Regions from separate parts of the Homo sapiens genome. Here region 2 is linked to region 1. The links come from fine-mapping of genetic effects on gene expression. Tissue or cell type: whole blood. Region 1 holds a variant in brackets; the other region holds the start of a gene. All regions are shown on one strand. Distances are from middle to middle. Region 1 overlaps SV2C (synaptic vesicle glycoprotein 2C). Region 2 holds the start of SV2C-AS2 (SV2C antisense RNA 2).

The links. PIP is the estimated chance that this variant, and not a neighbour inherited with it, causes the effect.
Region 2: it holds the start of SV2C-AS2, and the variant in region 1 is fine-mapped to the expression of SV2C-AS2 in whole blood (TOPMed, PIP above 0.99).

The regions. Positions count from the first base shown.
Region 1 is chr5:76,288,509-76,298,963 of GRCh38, reverse strand. It overlaps SV2C (synaptic vesicle glycoprotein 2C), which reads right to left. Exons shown (of 13, transcript NM_014979.4): 7 at 7,633-7,743; 8 at 7,108-7,196; 9 at 3,022-3,186; 10 at 37-170. It overlaps SV2C-AS2 (SV2C antisense RNA 2), which reads left to right. Exons shown (of 4, transcript XR_001742750.2): 2 at 779-861; 3 at 3,120-3,204; 4 at 3,860-3,984. Among named protein-coding and RNA genes, the nearest start is that of SV2C-AS2, 18 kb to the left of the region's middle. RefSeq lists enhancers at 1,888-2,770, 2,750-3,949. The variant G/C (reference allele first, on the strand shown) is at 3,984.
Region 2 is chr5:76,306,474-76,316,928 of GRCh38, reverse strand. SV2C-AS2 (SV2C antisense RNA 2) reads left to right here and starts at 5,300. Exons shown (of 4, transcript XR_001742750.2): 1 at 5,300-5,745. The region is part of intron 12 of SV2C (synaptic vesicle glycoprotein 2C); the gene reads right to left.

The DNA of each region.
Region 1 (10,455 bases):
GCCTCAGGTAGAGGCAGTACTAAGTAGCACACCTACCTGTGTTGTCAAAAACAGTGTCAATAAATGTGCAGTTCTTGAAGTAGGTGTTCACTGAAGTTACATCCTCAAAGGTGCAGGACTTAAAAACAGAGTCTTTGAAAGTTACAGATTTGAACTTGACCCCTATGAATCTGCCCAACACACAGAAAAATTCATATCAATCAATGACTGTGTCCATCAAAGTTCAAAGCTAAGTCAAATAGTTTTAGAGATGGAATGCCCCACTATGGACTGTCTTAATTATAAAGAACACAGAGTTCTTGATTTTCTTAGCTCTCTGCTTTTTCCCCTTTTTCTCATCCAGGCTGACCTTTGGCTATCTTATTGCTTACCAATATTATTTTTCACCAGGAAAAGAGATGACACTCCTAACTTCCCTTAGCTTTTTGTAATGTTGGTAAAAAGTTTTGTGGGGTATGCAACTGAAGATAGTTTGGGGATTACCTGGGGCTATTCTTTAGGTTTTAATCCTATCGTCTCTTCATGTATATCTTTATTTGAATATTCTCTATTTGGGGTTAATGGCTCTAACTTAAGGATGTCCTCCTACCCGATCTTTTAATAACTTTATTTTTCCCTAGCTGAAAATCCAAGTCTTCTTCATTCTAGTGTAGGGACCTGTAATTATCCTGAAGAGAGAGCATGAGAATTCTGTTTCATTTATGTGAGGAATAACTGACTTGGGGTTGAAGAAACTCATAGGTGACGCTCATTTCCAGGATAATTTTTCTTCTCACAGCCAACAGATAGTCCTTGAACCAAAAGGAATTATGAGAACTCTGCTTATTTTTGGAAACATGAAGAATGATGAAACCTGTTCAGGTATATTTTTGGGTATTATAAGGGGGAATTCTACGTGGTAAAAATGGTAACAGTCATAATGATAATAACATCTTAGAAGAGTCCATGATCCAGGCCTTATCAGCATTGATAAGGACTCCCAGCAGACACAGATAAATATTCATTAACGTGTCCTGGTACTTTATTAAGAGACTATGAATGTACACTTAGCCAGTCACTGAGAGGAAAATGCTTGTTCTCCTCGGGAAGGAGTTGTTATGTCAATACCACTCTTATTAGGGGCAGAAAGGGACTGATCCTTCTAGGTAAGTAGGTTGATTTAAAAGCAGTTTACTAACTATTGAGTACTTTCAAATTTATTCTCTCCCTAATACCCAATTACGTGTGTTGGTTCAAAATGCACATGGCCTCACAGACCAATCAGCTTAAAAAAGAAATCATTCCCATGGTACATTACCTGGAAATAATAATAATGATCTCGTTTCAATCCCCACTCCAGGGACCCAGAGTAAAAACATCTAAATGCACCAAAAGAGACTAAATAATGGCACATCTTTAAAAAGTTATCAATTTTTTCTGTCATGGAACTGAATTTGGAAAAGGGAATGAATCAGTTTTATTTTTTGAATGGATAATTCAGAGAGTACACATGGTGCACAATTCGAAAGGTTGAAAATGGAAAAAGTCAGTCTTTTCCCATCCATCCCCAGGCCACAAGTTCCTCTGCCCAGAATAACCATTGTTGTCAGTTTCTTGTGTGCTCCTCCAGGAGCATTCTGTGTCTAAAGTACACCTGCTTTATCTCCTTCTAGTCTACCTTGGAGGTTATTCCGTATCAGTATATAAAGAGTTGCCATTTTATGATGCTGAATAAAAAAGCTATTTTTTAAAAAATTTCGTTAATGGTATTTCAAATTTTCCTGAAGGACAAAAAAATTGTTTCTATCATCTTTTAAAATAAATGTGTAACATATGTTTTACAAAAACTGTAATACTATTAAAATTAGTAATCATTATATTGCTAATGTAAAAAAGTTCTAAGCAGTGACTGAGTATCCAGTTTAGAACTTTAACATATATTACTAAAAATATGACTGTCAGAGACACAAACATATATTAGAAATTTCTAATGGAGTAACAATACTTTTGAAAGTCAGTTTTCACCCTGGCATCACAGAGGACTTGACACTAAGCTTTCTGTGAAATGCTAAGTGCAGATTCAAGTCAGTATTTTATGTGGGAGAGTGAAGGTGATCCCACTTGGCTTGGATGATGATTAGTTCCTTCATTGAATTGCTAATTTGAACAATTACCTCCTAGTTAGTAACCCTCTTTTCCATTACATAGATCATAAGCATCCCACTGAATTCTTTTTCATCTTTCTGAACTGGTTTTTGCCCTGGGGAACTTTGATTATTTTAGAGTTTTATTTTATCACTTTTGAAATTGGGACAACTTCCTAAGAATGATGTAAACTATCATGAACTTACACTGGCAATTATTTGTTCAGGCAACAAAAATACTTGGATATAAACAAGTACTTGGTCTACTCTTTTCCATCTCTAAAAGAATGACCCAGGACCACCTCCCTGAGTCAGTTCTCTCTTGTCATCAAGAAGTATTTCAGATCCCATAAAGGAGACCCTTCCGTCTTTCAAAGCCCTTTACTTTGGGGAATGATTCCTGTTCTCTAATTGAAACTCTTCCTGATGCAATTTAACCTCAATTCTGGATTCAGCGTATTGGGAAGGATGAATTCTGAAAAGTGGCTCTGTTTCTCAGGAATAGAAGACTCATATAATCACATTTCAGATTTCTTCTGTGAATTAAATAATCCTATAGCCTGTCTTATTTTCCCATACTCTTCACTCTTCTCTTCCTTCCATTATTTTTGTTGCTCTCCAACATTGCTCTAAATTTTCCTTCCACACCAGTCAAGTCCACTACCTAATAAATATGAAGCAACTTAGCTGCAAAAATAGTTTTAAGTGAAGTAATGGATACATTTGTACCTTTTATTTAAAGCCTATTAAGAAGTATTGAAATTCATCATGAAAATGACTAAATGTACAAACTAAAACAAACAAACAAAAAACTATGCCTGTTTCAGTGCAGGGAAAGCTAAGAAGAAATAAGTTTTTGTGAATAGGTAGCAAATTAAATTATTTCAAGTTTCTAGACCTGCCATTGTCGTATTCCATTCCAGTATGAATCTGATTTTCCATTGTAAAGTTAATAGTGAAATTTGCATATTTATCTCTCTCCACATTTCTGGTTAGCAATGCATATTCATCGGACTGCAGAGGTTTAATGACATCAGGGAACCAAACGGATAATCCATAGTACCTGCAAAGACAAAGAAATGTGAGTTTGTAAAGGCACTAGCATGCCAGAGGCAATGAGCAACTCCCTGATGTTTTCAGACTGGTAATAGTTCCCGGAGAATGGCTGGCTCCCTATAACATTATGAGTAATTCATCATACAGCAATCCATGTGTCCCTCTCCCCCAGCATTAATCTGCAAAAATCAAGCTTGAGAGATGGCCTATGGTTAGCTGGAGAACCCCAGGTATGTAATTCCTAAACCCTTCCTTTGGGAAGAGACATGCAGAAAGCATCCGATCCTATGCCCATACATGGTGCCTGGTCTGAATGTGTCCTTCCAAAACTTATGTGTTGGAACTTAAACCCCAGTATAATAATATTAGAGGTGGGGGCTTTAGGAGGTGATTAAGTTATGAGGGCAGAGACCTCATGAATGAGATTAATGTCCTTATAAAAAGAGGTGCGAGGGTGCTGCCTCTCTCACTTTTTCCCTTCCATCCCTTCTACCACTGAGGACACAGTATTTGTCCCCTCTGGAGGACTCAGCGACAAGCTGCCATCTTGGAAGCAGAGACTGTGCCATTACTGCACACTGAATCTGCCAGCAGCTTGAGCTTGGACTTCCAGTCTTCAGGACTGTGAAAAATAAAATTCCTATTATTTACAAATTACCTGTTGTGGTATTTTGTTATAGCAGCAGAAATGGAGTAAGACATCTGACATCCTGGCCCCAATATCTTTCTCATCATTCCAGTCTGCTCTGAGAAACTCTCTCTCCTAGTCTGGTGGTACAAACTCCTGGGATCCAAGCACGGTGA[G/C]AGCCCCTAAAGAATGACCTCTTTTGCTAATGGGGAATCTTTCTTGGTTCCTACACTGCTGTGATACTGCTATCCTGGGGGTAGAATGCCAGTTCCCAAGGTAGTTAGAGGCTGGGAAGAGGACATTCGTGTTATTCTCAGAGATTCCAAGTTATTTCCCCTTTCTGCCTCTTGACCTCTAATGTGTTATTCTAACAGCTGTGTCATGCTGCTGTACTGTTCAGTACAGAAGCCACTAACCACGTGTGCCTACCAGGCAGTTGAGATGTGGCTGGTTCAAACTGAGATATACTATAAATATAAAATACCACAGGATTTTGAAGACTTACGGAAAAAAAGAAGGTAAAAATTGTTGCTAATAATTTTTATACTGATCATATGTTGAAATGACAGTGGCTCACGCCTATAATCCCAACACTTTGGGAGGCCGAGGCAGGCAGATCACAAGGTCAGGAGATCGAGACCAGCCTGGTCAACATGGTGAAACCCTACCTCTACTAAAAATACAAAAATTAGCCGGGCATGGTGGTGCACGCCTGTAGTCCCAGCTACTCAGGAAACTGAGGCAGAAGAATAGCTTGAACCAGGGAGTCGGAGGTTGCAGCGAGCCGATATCGTGCCAATGCACTCCAGCCTGGCAAAAGAGCGAGACTCCATCAAAAAAAAAAAAAAAAAAGAGAGAGAGAATGAATGAAACAAAATGTAGTATTAAAATTAATTTTATCTATTTCCTTTTACTTTGTGTGTGTGTGTATGGCTACCAGAAAATCTGAAATGACATCTGTGGTTCACACGATACCTCTATTAGACTGTGCTGCTCTAAAGTAGTACCTCCTAAGATAAGATAAGGTCCCCGGACCAGCAGGATCATCATCCCCCACAAACCCAGGTTCCAGTGAGACCTGATGAATTAAAAACTTTGGCAGGGGAGTCCTCCAGGGATTCTTCTGATGCACGTTCAAGTTTGAGAACCACTGCTCTAGTTTATTCCCAGTGACACTTAGCTACACAGGGAAAGAAGAGAGTATGGGCATAGCCTTTGCAGGAGGACAGGCTGGGTTTGAATCCTGGTCTTGTCGCTTACTAGCTGCCTAAACTTGGGCCAGTTATCTAAGCCTCAGTTGCCCATCTCTACTATTGGAATGATGGGAATATCCACCTTCCTGGGTGGTTGCTCAGTTTAAATGGGATGTCAAGTACCTAGCACATAGAAAGTGCTCAGAAGACAGTATGAGTCGTTTTTATCATCATTGTCATTAGGATTCCAAAAACATCTGTGCCTCAGGATTCCCACCCCTTTTCTTCATAGTAATGTCTGTGGGGGTGTGAGGGTAGTTATTGAGGAAGAAATGACTTAGGGGTACAACATTTATGGCATTGTTCTCTAGTCACATACATGGGGCACAAACCTTGAAATGGCAACAATGAGGAGGGCACATTACCTTGGAATGTCCATCCATCATCAATGATGTGGAGGGCTTTTGGCTAATTTGTCATTTATTTAGCAAACATTTACCGAACACGCACTAAATACTAGGCACTATTGAGGTTCCAGGGATATAGCAGTAAAACAAATCATAAAGCTTAAAATATGATCAATAATGAATTAGTAAACAAAATAAACAAGCCAGATAATGATGATTACTCTTTACACCTTGACAGCAGGACTTCCTTCTTGCTTATCTTTGTCTTCTTTGTCTTTAACCCCTTGCTTAGGTACAGAGTAAGCACTTAATATAGGTTAATATTTAGCCTTCCCTTCCTTCAGAGATTAATGGATTTTCTAGAGCTTGGGTGGGAATTACTTTACATATTCTAAGTCAACCCTCTTAATTTAGAAATGAGGAACTGAGAAATGTCTCCAAGTCACAAGCTAACCAAGTCACCCAGCAGAATGGGCTGCTAGGTCTCCTGACTCCCAGCTTCCTTCTTTCTCCGTATTCCACCTCCTCAGGCACTAAGAAAGAGTGGTCACCTTAGATCACTTGCCTGGTTTGATTTAGGGATGTTAAGAGATGAAACTTGCAACATAAATGTTAGGTTCTATAAGGTACTGAGTTCCTGCTGACCTGAAAGTGTAGAGTATTATCTAATTTTTCTTTTCTAAACAGCAAATTAGGCAACAATAGAGTTGTACACACACATTCTAAAGTGACTATGTCAGCGATTAACAAATAAAATCTTGTTATTTTCTCCCTATTTCCTCTTTTCCTGGAACACATATATGGCAGTTTAATTCATTTGGCAACAACTATTTATTGAGCTGCTATTACATGCCAGGAATATACATCAGTGAACAAGACATAAACAAAATTATTATTATTTTTTTAGAAATGGGGTCTTGATATGTTGCCCAGGCTGGAGGGCAGTGGCTAGTAACAGGTGTGATTATAACACTCTTAAGCTTCCAACTCCTGGGCTCAAGCAATCCTTCACCTCAGCTTCCAGAATAGCTTGGAATATAGGTGGATGGCACCACACTCAGCTTTGAACAAGGCAGTTAAAAACCCCTGTCCTCATGGAGCTTCCAGAGAGGGAAGCCAGAGCTTTACTCTTTATACAGAATAAAGGAGTGTTTTGCATATTAGAAGGTAGAAAGTGCTGTGGGGTAAAGTAGAGCTGAGAAGGGGATAGGGAGTGTGGAGGGGCTGCAATTTTTTAAAAAGAGAGGATGACATCACTGAGAAGGTGACATCTGAGGAAAGAGTTGAAGAGGGTAAAGAAATGAACTGGGCAGATGTCTGGAGGGGAAAGCAACTCAGGCAGAGGAACACCGCAAAGGCCCGAGATGGGAACTGTTCTAGAATGTTCAAAGAAGAGCAGAGAGGCTGGTATGGCTGGGGCTGGGCAAAGGAGGACAGGACAGAGAAGTCATGGGGCAAATCATCCAGGGCCTTACTGGATTTTGCAGATACAATTGGTTTTGCTACCTTAGCTTTATGACAAAACAAATAAAATAACTGGTTTATAAAAACCATAACTCTCAGCAAACCTAAGCTGAAAAAAATTTCTTCCTTAGCAGGTTAACAGCATCAAGCAGTATCAGAAAAGAAAGCAGCATGGCTAGGAGTTACAATGTGGACATTGAACGATTTTGCTTGCCAAGAATTTAAATATCACTTACCCAAAGGACAGGGTGAACCAAACAATTGTAAGCTTTATTGTATTATCCCTGACTGGGTAGTTGAAACATCTCATAAAAGTCAACCAAATCTGTGAAATATTAGAGAGTTAGTTTTCTCATGCAGTTACTTAGTCAACCCCACTCCCCGACCCCTTCCACCAAATTATAAAAAATGCTGAGTTGTCATTGGGTTGGATTCATTTCACCTTAAAATGTAAAAGTTAAAGGTAATTGGAATTTTCATTCTTCAGCTTCCTGGATGTCAATGGACAAGGTAACTCAAGATTTGAAGGCACCCTGCCACTGCCAAGACTCCTGGCCTAACACTTTCCCTTCCCACAGATGGAATGTATTGGCTAAATGCTGGTCGAGTGGGATCCAATTACCTGGCTCTAGTCCAGGAGTCAGGTGTCCTGGGCAGCAGGAAAGAACCTCGCTCATAGGGCAGGCCCAGTAAACCCCTCTTCTGACTAACCTCAAATGCAATAAATTAACATGCAGGTCATCATGGGACTTGTTACTTACTCCGTACAGCTCGGTGCGGATCCGAACAAAACACCTCCTATACCATGTTCCTGTGTCACTCTCAATTTCAATCAGCTCATCTATTTGTTTAGGAGTTTTTATTTTGTTTACCTGTAGAGAGAAACAGACCAAAGCGCTAAGTTACCTTCTCTGAAGTTGCTGAGTGTAGGGTTATAATTTGTTTTTACAGGAGCAAAAACTGACTCCGGCAAGAAGTAGGCGGTATTTGGTAATCAGTTCATACATATATGAGACCACTGCCATAAGTATATGGATCCAAACAGCACCTGGAAGAACTGAAGAAGGAATGAGTGAGAGGGAAAACCACAAAGAAATGGGGGAAGGGCAAGTAGTAATAGAATAATGTGAAACCAAAATGCCCTCCCTGAACCATTACTACAGAGACACACATTAGCAGACAAAACATCCAGATAAGTTAGATTCTGGATTAAGAATTATTTAGCTTGGGCTAAAGTGAGTCTACACATTTTTTTCTTTGAAACCTACTTATTTGATGAATTTGACCCCTAACTATAGTTCTGAAAGCATTCCCATCACTATTCTCAGAGCACCACTTCCGGTCCTTTTCTTCCTTCTCCCACAGCCTAACCCACAGTGGCTAGTCAGCAAATACCCACAGGTAGCCATGATTCAAGATTAAGTGAAGGATTTTTGACTGCAAGCATCAACATGAATTTCTCAGCCATATAAGGGAAATAAATGATAGAGGTTCAGCATGAAAAGCAGCATCTATGACTCAGTTAGCCTCTTTTTGCTAAGGAAGAGAACCACAAGATAGGAGAAGCACAGAGAATGAATCCTGAAAATAGAAAAAAATGAAGAATGGGTCCTTTGTGGGCCTGACCCGCCTTCTCCTGCTAATCAAGATTTACCTGTTTTTGATAAATCTGAGAGGACATGGAAATGTGTACACATTACCCCTGCCAGAGGTTTGAACAGGTTTTTCCGGACATCCTGCCAACATTTAAAGGGGTAACTCTATTGGCAGAGTACAGGTACCTAGGCCAGTTTTGGATAGAGGTGGCTTGGGGACCCTCAGCACCTTTCAAATTATACCAAGTAGGCAGTAGGTTCTTTCTGGCCAGGTAAACAAAGATGTCTGTACTTAGCAAAAATAATCTCTGAGTTAAATATGGAATTCCAAATCAAATGCAATCGGCTCAAAATAATCCATGTAGGAATTATGTTTTTTAAAACTCTAGATTTAAAAAGTTTTTTTTTCTTTTCTTTTTACATCATGGGATAGTCTTAATCCAACATACTACTTTTGGGAGGCTTCCGCTTTTTCACTCATCGATATTTGTTTGTTCATTTATTCATTGGCACCCATGCGGGATGCAAACATAGGCAGCCATGTGGCTCCAAACAATTACCATACAAAACGAAAAAAAGTACTCTAATGGGGATCTATAAAAGATGGGAAGGAAATACTGTTCAGAACAACCTACTTAACCTGGAAGTGAGAGAGAGGCTTCAGGAACTGCAGGCTTATAGAGAAATACGCTATCTGCCATGGATGTAACCTGCTTGGAGGATATTCCAAGTGGGAGAAATACCATGTGCAAACAAATGTCCAGAGTTAGGAGGGAAAATAGTGCACCGGGAAACTGCAAAGAGTTCGCGATTCCTGAAGGATAGTAGAAGGCCAGAGGGCAGTGAATAAGGAGGACTGCACCAAATCAGCAGCAGTGGAGTGATATTTAGGAGGTGGAATAATAGAACATAATGGTTTCTTAGATGTACCAAAGATAAAAGAAAGAATATAGTTTTTGGGTTTAGGTGGTGCTTGTGGTACCTACTGATGAAATTTAGGGCAATGATGAGGCTTGGAGACTGCTTAGGTGATAAATTCAGATTTAAAGATGCCATCTTTCCCCACCCCTCACTGCCCAAAGATGCCATTTTTGAAGGGCCTATGTGATCTAGAAGGATGCCCACAAAGTCCTTCAACCTGCATGTGTGGAGCTCAGGAGATTTGTGCATTAGGATACATGCAGGAAATAGCTGAGATCAGCTAAGGAGAGTGAATAGGGTTAAAGTGGAAGTTAGCTGAAAATGAAGTCTTCGAAAACAATATTTAAGGTAAGGGCACACTAAGAAGAGCTTCAGAGGACACCTTAAGAGGGCCAGGCATGGTGACTCACATCTGCAATTCCAGCCCTTTGCGAGGCTGAGGCAGAAGGATCACTTGAGCCTAGGAGTTTGAGACCAGCCTGGACAACATAAGGAGACCTGTTGTTAATTATCTACAAATAATTCAAAAATCAGCCAGATATGGTGGCACATGCCTGTATTCCCAGTTAGTAGGAAGGCTGAGGCAGGAGGATCACCTGAGCCAGGGAGGTTGAAGCTGCAGTGAGCTGTGATCACACCACTGCACTCCAGCCTGGGCAACAGAACGAGACCCTGTCTCAAAAAATAAGGAAAAAAAAAAAAGAAAAGGAGACCTTAGGAAAATGCATGCAACTTTGCTGTACCGTGGATTTAAAAAATAAAAAGATAAATTTGTTATGGCAGAATCATGTAACAACTTTTTGAAAGTCACATATAAATGACTTTGAAATTATCAATCACTTTTGGAGTATATCCATCTTATTCTCCTCTAACCTTCATGTAACAACATTAACACATCGCCATTAGTGGACTTGGTAACTCAACCCTTTTGGAAGAAAAGGCAGGTAAGTAGGGCAATGAGGCCCTATAGAGACACCTTCTCAGAAGGTCTGGTAAATAAAGGGTTTTTCTTCATCTGGCTGAGAAGAGTTAAGTGATGTTGTATATCCAGATAATGTCTCAAGATTC
Region 2 (10,455 bases), 18 kb before region 1:
GACGAGATCATGGTAACATACATGCTGAGTGCAATGTTGAAGATACCCACAAAGTATTATGCAGCCAGGAGCATAGAAAGTGATATCGAGCTGAGGGTAGTGGCAGTTGAAGGAAAGCTTCTCAGGGGGGCTGGACAAGACTAGGAGTGTGCTGAAAGGAATAGTAGGAGCTTGCCAGGAGAAGGATGGCATGTGGATAGGGGTGTTCTCTGCCTCTCCCCGTACTCTCACATCTCCCTAACTTCCCTCATGGTACCCACTCAGGTTTGCCTTAGACACACCCCTAAAGGCTTCTTGAGGGCTAAACGGCTTACCTCCCTCCAGCCCCTAAATAAATTTCCTACTCCCAAGCAGGTGTTTTCAACCTAGGATTAGGATAGCAATCTGATTGAACCAAAGTGCACGTATAACCATGCCCTGAACTAATGATGCTTAAGCTTGGGTGCATCAGAATCACCTGGAGGAGCTTTCAAACCTTAGTGATGTGTTCAATACTGATGCCTAGGGCCACATGCACAGAGATTCTGAATTTATTGCTTTATTGGGGCCCAAGCATTAGTATTTTTTAGAAGCTCCACGTGACATGAAGGTGTATCCAGGGTTGAGAATCCTGCTGTCTTCCCAGGGATGTCTGCATTCTTTGAATTGATGTGGGTTTCATATACAAAGGAAATTATAAAAGCAAAACATCCACTCCACCTTTCTGACAAATGGTTTTCATTTCTGAATTCCCTTTAGTGTACTTCCAGTCATATAAATCACAGGAAATCAGAGGATTTAGACAATTTTGCTTTCTGCTTTTTTTTCATTCATATTACTGTTTTCTCATGTTGATGTTTTGTTTAAAATGAAATGATTTATTTAGCATGGAACCATTATTCTTGTAACCATGCCATTGGCTAATGGGAGCTTTCCAAATTTGGGGTAACAAGTGATTCTGCAATTAACACCTTCACATATATGACCTGCTTCGTTTGTGTGTGTTCATTAGGGAATATCAAGCAGCATAAAACATCCAAGGGAAAGTGTTTATGATGTGATGCAGGGGATACTGAGGCCAGCAAAGTATGCTTTGCACACTGGAGAGGAGAGAGAGAGGGATCCAACCCAAAGGCTTCCCATCCCTTTTTTCTTCTCCCTTCCTGCTTAGGCTCTTGTTAAACTCCCTTGTTTATTCTGCTTCTCACAGCACAGAGCTTAATTCATTTCACCAGAGGCAGCTTCTCACCTAACCTGAATTGTTTCCTTCTCTTCCAACTGTTACTCAGTTGCCTCAACTTGATTCCCTCCACGCTACCCTTCCCACTCCCCTCCAAGGGCTGGTTTATACCAATCTTGCACATCTCCTTGTCCAGAATTAGCCTTGTTTAGGTCCAGGTCACCTCTGGGGGAGTGGAGCTGGGTAGCCTTTGTAGTCACTCAGCACCACCTCTTCTCAGGACCGGTACAGATACCTATGTTACTTATTAAATGAAAGACTGAGCTAACAGATTTCCTGAGATCTTCCAAATATGTTGGAAGTCGATTTTTGTAATAGACATTTTAATGGAAATTAGTTGGGTCATATTTGTTTTTTTGATACCAGACTATCATATTTTTTTTTTCAGAGAGAAAAAATGAATTTCATATTAAGTCAGAAAAGACTGAATGCAATTGTTTTCTAATCTTCAAAGAAAGATAAAAATCTGTCTTACCCTAGTATCTATTATGTGTGTGTGTGTGTGTGTGTGTGTGTGTGTGCGCCTGGCCATGTTCCTTAATGAGGGCAAGATGGCACCCTGCACCCCTTCGAGCAGGGCCTTCCTTACACTCAAGTGGAGAAGGACTCACCTACAAGTTGTGAGCTGACAGGAATCCCTGGATCCCAAGTAGCCCTTTATCTCCCTCCCATCTCCACCACCATAAGGGGCTTTTGACTGCTTATTCCTGTTGAAATCAAATATTCTGGGAAGGTAATAACGGGAGCCTTTATGTCTTGTTTATCTGATTAACCTAGCTAGGGAGTGAGGGCCTGGGCCAGGGTAAATAATGATGGAATGACTGAGCACCCCTTGGAGTTCATCTGTGGCCAAGGTCATGAACATGGCTGTGCATCCCAACAGCCAAGTGAGCTGTTTAAAAATAGATTCCCACACCTACTGGGAGGGGAGGTAGATATGTCTGTGCTGGGAGCAGCACCACTGAGTCAGACATCTGGGTTTAAGGCTAAGTGATCCAGGACAAGTTACTTCCCCTCTCTGTGCCGCATTTTCCTCACCTGAACATGGGGTAAGAATACCTACTCTTACAGGATTGGGATGAGAATTAAATAAGTTGAGATCATTTAAAATTTCCAGCATCATGCCCGACCCACCCTCCACCACACAGATGAGGAAACCAAGGCTCAGAAGGGTGAAAGGCCTTTTCCAAATTATCCAGCTATTTTTCTGGCAGTGACTGCACCTGAATTCAGTGACCCCTAGATCAGTGCTTTCCTCCACTTTGTTGATGAAGTAGAGGGAGAGGGGGAGGTGGATCTCTAATAGGCAATGCTTTATGAGGAACGGGGAGCTGACAGCTGAAGGATCAGGAGGTCTCAGGCTGTGATGGAAGAAGTGGAAAGGGACCCAAAGGACAGCAGAGAGGACTGAAGACCAGTGCTCCCTCCCTTACACTGGCCCAAATGCTCACTCTGGAAAGCTGGGAGGCTGGACCCCATACGGGGAGGAAAACTATCATCCATAGCCAAATTAATTCTCAAATGCATATTTCATTCATTCATTCATTCATTCACCTAGAGTTATGGCAGTAAATAAGGAAGACAATGTCTTGCCCTCAAGGAGCTAACATTCTAGTGAGTTAAACAAGTACACATGCAACCTAACATCCTCTCATCATAAGGTCTGGGTGATAATTTCCTTTAAGTACTTCAGTATAAACAATATGATTGATAGATAAATTGTCTCTAATGCATACCCATATAATTTAAAGCACATTAATCAAGAATCAACAGGCCAGAGATGGTTACTTAGTGCTTTAAAGATCATTTTAGAAATCTGCATGAGAAGGTTTGTTAATGACCACGGAGATGATTTTTTCACTGATGATGTGAGTGCTGTTCTGTATAAGCAATGATTGGAAAGAATGTTCTGCCCTTAGCCTAATGAACATACAAGCGTCCTCCAAGCCCTGCAGCCTCAAGTTGGTGAAATGGTACTCCTGGTCTAGACTCCAGATTCTAGAGCCCCCTTATCCTGCACCCCACAATTAAAGGGGCATTCCCTTGTTTAGCTGGCCCACAAGTCTGGTGGCCCTGCTGTCAGCATATCAAGCACATGGCCCTTTCATGCAAGGGCTTGCTCAGTACCCAAGGACAGCGAGATGGACTTCCTTGGAGCTCAAAAACAAACTTTGTGACTGTTTTTGTGCTAGTACACTTGGCAGGATTTGCTTCCATTGTAATATATTGCCTGATGGCAAGGTTGTGGGAGCAGGAAGCATATATTCCCCACCCCCTTCACCCTCTACTTCTAACTACCAGAGACAAAATGAATCTGACTTTTGCTGGATAGCCAAAGCATAAACATATATAATATAATGATAAGGCGTATAAGGAAAAATCAAGCAGAGCAGAGGGCCAGGGATGGAGTGGATTACATAGGTTGGTTAGTCGCGATAGCTGAAAGATTCCTCTGTACCAAAATCTTCACAAATAAGTGAGATATTTATCTTTATATTAGACGTAGAATGTATTCAAGAAAGAATGAATGAAATTGCCATTACAGAATACCAGATGACGACAGTGAAGAGAATTCTAGAGCTAGAAAGGCCCTGAGATGCTATTTATTTCATACTCCTCATTTAAATCTCAAACAATCCAGGCCCAGCTAGGCTGAGTGGTGTCCCTGAGGTCGCACAGCTGGTCAGTAAGAGATCCAAGATGACAGACCTTCGGAACTGAAGAATGGGGAGGAAACAAGAGAACTCTGTCAAAACAAGGACAGTCCTAAGGGAAGGGCTTGGGTTGCTTAATTCTGGGAAAATGTTTTGATTTTAGCTCATCAAGGAAGAGACCAATCCCACTGCACTGGGTGATGGCAGCAGCTGCCCAGGACTCTCAGGGATCGGCAGGTGTGAACAATCAGATCCTCAAATCCTTTCTGACCTCATGTCTGAAACTGTGCATGCATAAGGGGGCATAAGGGGGAAAGAAAAGGGAAGAAGGTAGGCAGAGAAAGGCAGGAACATGCGGCCAAACGACACCATGAGACAGGCTTGCCTGGCCCTGGGAGTCTGTGCAGAGTTGCAGGACGGCCCTGAGAGCGTGGGCTGCATCTCACAAGGTGTGCGCTCCTGGCCCCGAGCGCCACGGAGGAGGGGTAAAGATGGCCCCTAATGGCTGGGCACGCTGGCTCATGTCTGTAATCCCAGCACGTTGGGAGGCCGAGGCAGGCAGATCACTTGAGGTCAGGAGTTCGAGACCAGCCTGGCCAACACGGTGAAACCCCGTCTCTATTAAAAATACAAAAATTAGCTGGGAGTGGTGGAAGGCACCTATAATCCCAGTTACTCAGGAGGCCGAGGCAGGAGAATTGCTTGAATCTGGGAAGCAGAGATTGCAGTGAGTGGAGATTGCGTCACTGCACTCCAGCCTGGGTGACAGAGTGAGACCCTGTCCCCCCCCCCAAAAAAAAAAAGTGGCCCCTGAGCCATAAGCACACAGGAAATGTGAGCAGGGGACTTGGCCACAGCCACATAGTGGCAGCAGAAAGTTAACACCTGGACGCAGAGAAACATAAAGGCCAAAACCTAGAACTGGAATGAGCTGGAACAGGCCTACACCGCGGGAGCTACATTTATGACTTTTGAGAGATTTACAACTTTCACAAAGCAGGGAGAGAAAAGTAGGGACCCTGATGGATGGAAAAAATCCATTTCAACCTGTCATTACATATACTTTCATTTTGAAGACTTCAAGAGATGAGGGAAAATTGACTTATTTTTCCCAGTTAGGGTATTGAGGGAAGCTGACCAGCACAGACTAAACCCAAAAAATGAAATGCATCTTCTGTTGGTGTTCTCAGTTCTACCGCAAAGAGGGTTGAAAGTAATTTTGCTGGTGGCAGGGACTGGGGACGGAGAAATGAGGGAAAAGGAAGCTCCCCCACACCAGTATGTTAGATGGTTGGGGCTCCTTTCAGATTTACGGCAAGCTGGAAAATCCATTCTATGTCTGGCTCATGTCACATTCATATTTCATGTCTATTAGAAGAATCTCATGCCACATCAATTGTTTGTGATCTACATTACATATAATAGGCTCTCTGCTTATCTTTGACACAGGTGAGGGGCTGATGTAGAAACTGTTAAAAGACTATACAATGACTTGTATATTCAATAATGGCTCAAACTTCAAAGGTCTATCATTTTGCCCTGCTCTTCATTTCTTTCCTCATAATGCTTCTCAAAGCAATCTTGTCTTTCCAGCCTCACAATCAAGGACAAATTCCTGAATGCAACATTTGCTTTTCCGTCTTCCCGCTTCACCTCACTCATCCCTGCAGAAGTACAAGTATTCCTGGCTTCTTCAAGTCTACGCCTAAGAATTAAGAGCCTTGGGGAGAAGGGCACTGCATCGACCACTGCATCTCAATCATTGTGGCAGACGTACCACAGCACTGGGAAGCTGGCCTTGGCAAGAATCTCAGGCTATTACTACAGAGTTGGGAAGAAGGTTTAGGATCAAGATAGAGGTGACTGACCAAGGTGAGTGCATGAGCAGAGAGGTGCCTTCAACTTCCACTGCAGACAGTTCTGATATCTTGCCTCTACCTGAGGTGAGTTCTAGCCCTGGGCAAGTCAGTCCAATGAATGTCATTGAGAACCAGCTGCAAACTACTACTGCCCTACTGACCTAAGCACAGAGGTTATAGGGAAGTCTAACTTGCAAAGCCTTCTCTCAATGTCATACACCATTTTTGAAGATCAAGACATCTTAATACTTTGACCACTTGCTTCCAGGCTAGTTTTTTTGTATTCCACTCTGCCAGCCTGAGTTTCTAGCTCACTGAACTCTTGTCTCCTGGCCTGGTATCCTAACTCTGGTGTCTGTTATTTCTTAGTCCAGATCTGTGTTACCTCTGGATTTTCTTACGTTGATGGATTTACCCCCAGACTCCAACTCTTGCCTCTCAGACATGTTATTTCTATGGAGGCCTTTGTTTTCTGTTTCCTTTGACTTGAACTATTCCAGGTCTCTCTCTTAGACATATTTTCAGAATCTAACCACTTTCTCACCACCTCCATTGGCACCATTACCTCTTGCCACATTTCTTGCTGTGGACTTCATAAGTCAGTTCATGTCACTCATCTGCCCCCAAACCCCACATTGGATTTCATTTTACTCAGCAAGAAGACCAAAGCCCTTTTATTGTCCACTCTGACCCCATGGCTTCTTACCCTCTACCTTGGTCATTCTGCTCCAGCCAGACAAGCTTTGCCTCTCTTCCAACTGGTCTCTCACACTCCCACCTCAGGACCTTTGCACCTGCTGTTGCCTCTGCTGTGAATACACTCTCTCCAGATGTCTGCCTGGGTCTTTGCTCAAATGTCAGCTTTACAGTCACATCCCCCTAGACCATTCTATTTACAGTTGTAACTCTCCTTACCCCAGCATTCTCTATGCTCCACGTAGCTTTATTTTTCTCTACAGCACTTAGCACCATCCAATATACTACATCTACTTTACTTATCTGTTTGTTGGACTGTCTTCCTCAAACTATTATAGAATATAAGCTCTATCAAGGCAAAGCTTTCTGTCTGTTTTGTTCACTGCTGTCTCCCAATGACTAAAATAGTTCCTGGCACAGGATATGCATTCCATAATCATTTTTTTTTTTTGAATGAAATAGTGAATGACCTCTCTATCCCCAGCTCAGGTATCTTTCTGGCATCCAAACAAAAATATTCAAATGCCAATCGGACAGCCCCAGGTTGATGTAAAAACTCAACATGTCCAAAATGGAACTTATTACCTTCTTGACCACAGCCCAGACCCACTGTCCCTCCTGTGTCCCAGCCTCAAAATGCCATTGTGCTCCTGCAGGTGGTTTTTAAAATTAAAAAACATAAACAAAACCTGCCATCTCCATTCACTCAACTGTACACGCAGAAACTGGAATCATCTTTCTTTGACAACCTCTTTTCTTCCCCCTAACATCTAATCAAGCACCAAGCTTTGTTGAATGTATCCCTAAATATCTGTGAACATGTTGAGTGTTGACTTTTCCCCTTTCCAACCTACATTTTTCTTTCTTTCTTTCTGTTTTTTTTTTTTTTTTTTTTTTTTTTGAGATGGAGTTTCGCTCTGTCGCCCAGGCTGGAGCACAGTGGTGCGATCTCGGCTCACTGCAAGCTCCGCCTCCCGGGTTCACGCCATTCTCCTGCCTCAGCCTCCCGAGTGGCTGGGACTACAGGCGCCAGCCACGATGCCTGGCTAATTTTTTGTATTTTTAGTAGAGACGGGGTTTCACCTTGTTAGCCAGGATGGTCTCGATCTCCTGACCTCGTAATCCGCCTGCCTTGGCCTCCCAAAGTGCTGGGATTACAGACGTGAGCCACCGTGCCCGGCCTCCAACCTACAACTTAAGTGTCTTAACCAGCCTCCCTGCCTTCTTTCTGGCCATTAGAGGGAGCTCTCTAAAGGCCAAGAATGATCTTGTCATTCTCTGTAAGACAGCTCAAAGTCTCCCCGTCCCCACACAATAAGGCAATGTGAAAGAGTCTTCATGACTTGTTCTTTGAGTAACTCTTTTACTTCCAGAGCTTGTTAGCTGGTATTTGCTCTAACTGAAATGTTCTTTCCATCTTTTTGACTGGTTATCACCTACTAGATCTCAATTAAATGGAACTTCTTTCAAGAAAACCTCTCTGATGCTCTGAGCATCATGCACTTCCCATGTAATAACCCTGACCACTATATTACAACTGAAGTTTGCTTGTGCTTATGAGAATAAAGACCACAACTGATTTACTCACGGTTGTATCATAGGTGCTCAAAAAAATAGTTGTTGAGTAAATAAACAAACAGTATTAAAATTCACACCGAGATGGAATAGATATACTTTTCTTATTCTTCTTGATAAGTACAACAAAATATCCTGCACATTATATATAAAACAAACAGAACAAGACTGAAAGAGGAAAAAGGCAGAACTGCTAGGGAGCTTGGGGATGGGGAGTTCCCTGCGTTTGCCTTCTGCTCCATAGATCTCAGACTTGGAATCGAACAAGTTGCCAACCCAGAAATGCCAATAGGCACAGAAAAAGAAAAGCCACAACCAAAGCCTGCTCTCTCTAGCCCAAGGACCAGGAAAACGGCAGTCTAGCAAGATAGAAAACTTTTAGATAATAACCTCTCTCCTCAGACCAAACACCAGGAAAAAATTGTAGCTCAACTGCCAGCTACATCAGCAAAGGTCTGGTGGTAGCCTAGACTTCCACCCTTGTGAAACTAAGAAGACCTGTCAACACTACCATTGGGATGCCATCAGAGAAGGGTAAGTAAGGAGCTGGGACTTTCATCCCTGCTGGGTGGTAATGAGCTCCTCCTTCCCTCCCTCCCATGGTATCCATGATCAGGAAGGGAGTGTGGACTCCCAGCAGTAATGAGAATGCCCACTCTTGGGTGTCACTGGAGCTTAAGTGGAGTACCTGGACTTCTACGTCCACCTGGTAATAATAAGGCAATGCCTCCCTTTCGCTTGCCAGAGAGGAGTCACAGAAAGCCAATTCAAGCAAAAGGCTTAAATAAGATCCAAATTCTCATAACATAATATGTAAATGACTGCTTCCAATCAGAAACTGTTTGTCATACAAATAAACAGGAAGATTTCAAACAGAATGAAAAAAGACAATCAATAGATGGCAACACTGATATGACAGAGATGTTAGAATTATCTGATGAATATTTTAAAGCAGCCATAATAAGGCTTCAATGAGCAACTATGAACACACTTGAAACACATGAAATTTAGAAAGCATCACGGCAAAAATGGAAAAAATAGAAAGCCCTAGCAAAGAAGTAGAAGAAATAAAGAAGAACTAAATGAAAATTTTAGAACTGAAAAATATGATAACCAAAATAAAAAGCTTAGTGGTTGGGCTCAACAGCAGAATGGAGGAGACAGAGGAAAGAACCAGTGAACTGGAAGACAGAACAATGGAAACTATCTAAAGTGAAGAACAGAGAAAACAAACTAAATCAGGGACCTGCGGAACTATAACAAAAGATCTAATATTTATGTTGCTGGAGTTCAGGCAGAAGAGAAAAAGGGCAGCACTGAAAAAGTATTCAAATAGTTAAATTTTACGGGAGGCCATTGTTTTGGGCTAGTCTCCTGCACCTAGGCCACAGCAGACCAGTCCTAAGCAGAATGGAGTCACTCAGGCTAAGTGCCACCTAATCAAATTGAACTTTGAAAAGAGCCAGTTTTCCAAAAAACAGGTGATTCCGGCCAACCCAAATGAGCATAATAAGGAAGTCCCCTCTGTTTTAGCCCTTTACAGAAAGGGACTTTGAAAGGGCTATCTGCTTTTTGTTCTCTGTATCTGCTCTCTTTAGAGCTTTTCTGCCTATGAAGCCAACTTTCTCTGCTCAGCTCATTAGAGCACTCACCCCATTTTATAGAGTGAGGTGTTGCCTGCTTCTAGAATAGCAGATAAAAGTCAACTAGCTCTTTACACTAAATTTGTTGTAATTTTGTTTTTTGACAAAATAAATAATGGCTGAAAACCTCATAAATTTGGCAAAAGCTGTAAACCTACAGATTCAAGAAGCTGAGCAAACCCCAAACATAGTAAACCCAAAGAAATCCATGGCAGGCAAAGAAAAAACCTGAAAAGCAACCAGAGGAATCAATAGTTTATTCCTATTGGGAAAAAATACTTAAGACTGTAGATCATCCCCCTCTACAAATGTGGTATCTGTTTTCAGAATTCCCACAACAGACTCAGCAGTAACCCCTCACTTGCCCCAGAGAACACTGGATCTTATCTATCTTTTAAATATTGTCTTCTCTGAATAATAGGAGAAAGCTAAATGTCATAATTGCTTTAATTTGTAATTAATTTTTACTATTAGTGAAGCTGAGCATTTTTATATGCTAAGTGTTTGTTGACATTTCTTTATGAATTTCCAATTTATATATTCAGGTTATTAATTCATTTCTGTTTCAACCCCCTCCTGCCCTCAATTTATCATTTATATGTGCCTATGGTATTTTTTGCTGTGTGGAATTCACATTTTGTTTTACCCAGAGAATTCTTTTAACCTTCTCCCTGATGGTTTCTGGTTTTGAGGTCATGCTTATAACTAGCAGCTAAGGTTTTAGGGAATGTAGATTTGTTTTTGATTTGCTGTCCAGGGGTACAGTTTCCCACCTTTTGCATAGCTAAATCCTCTGGATAATAAATTGC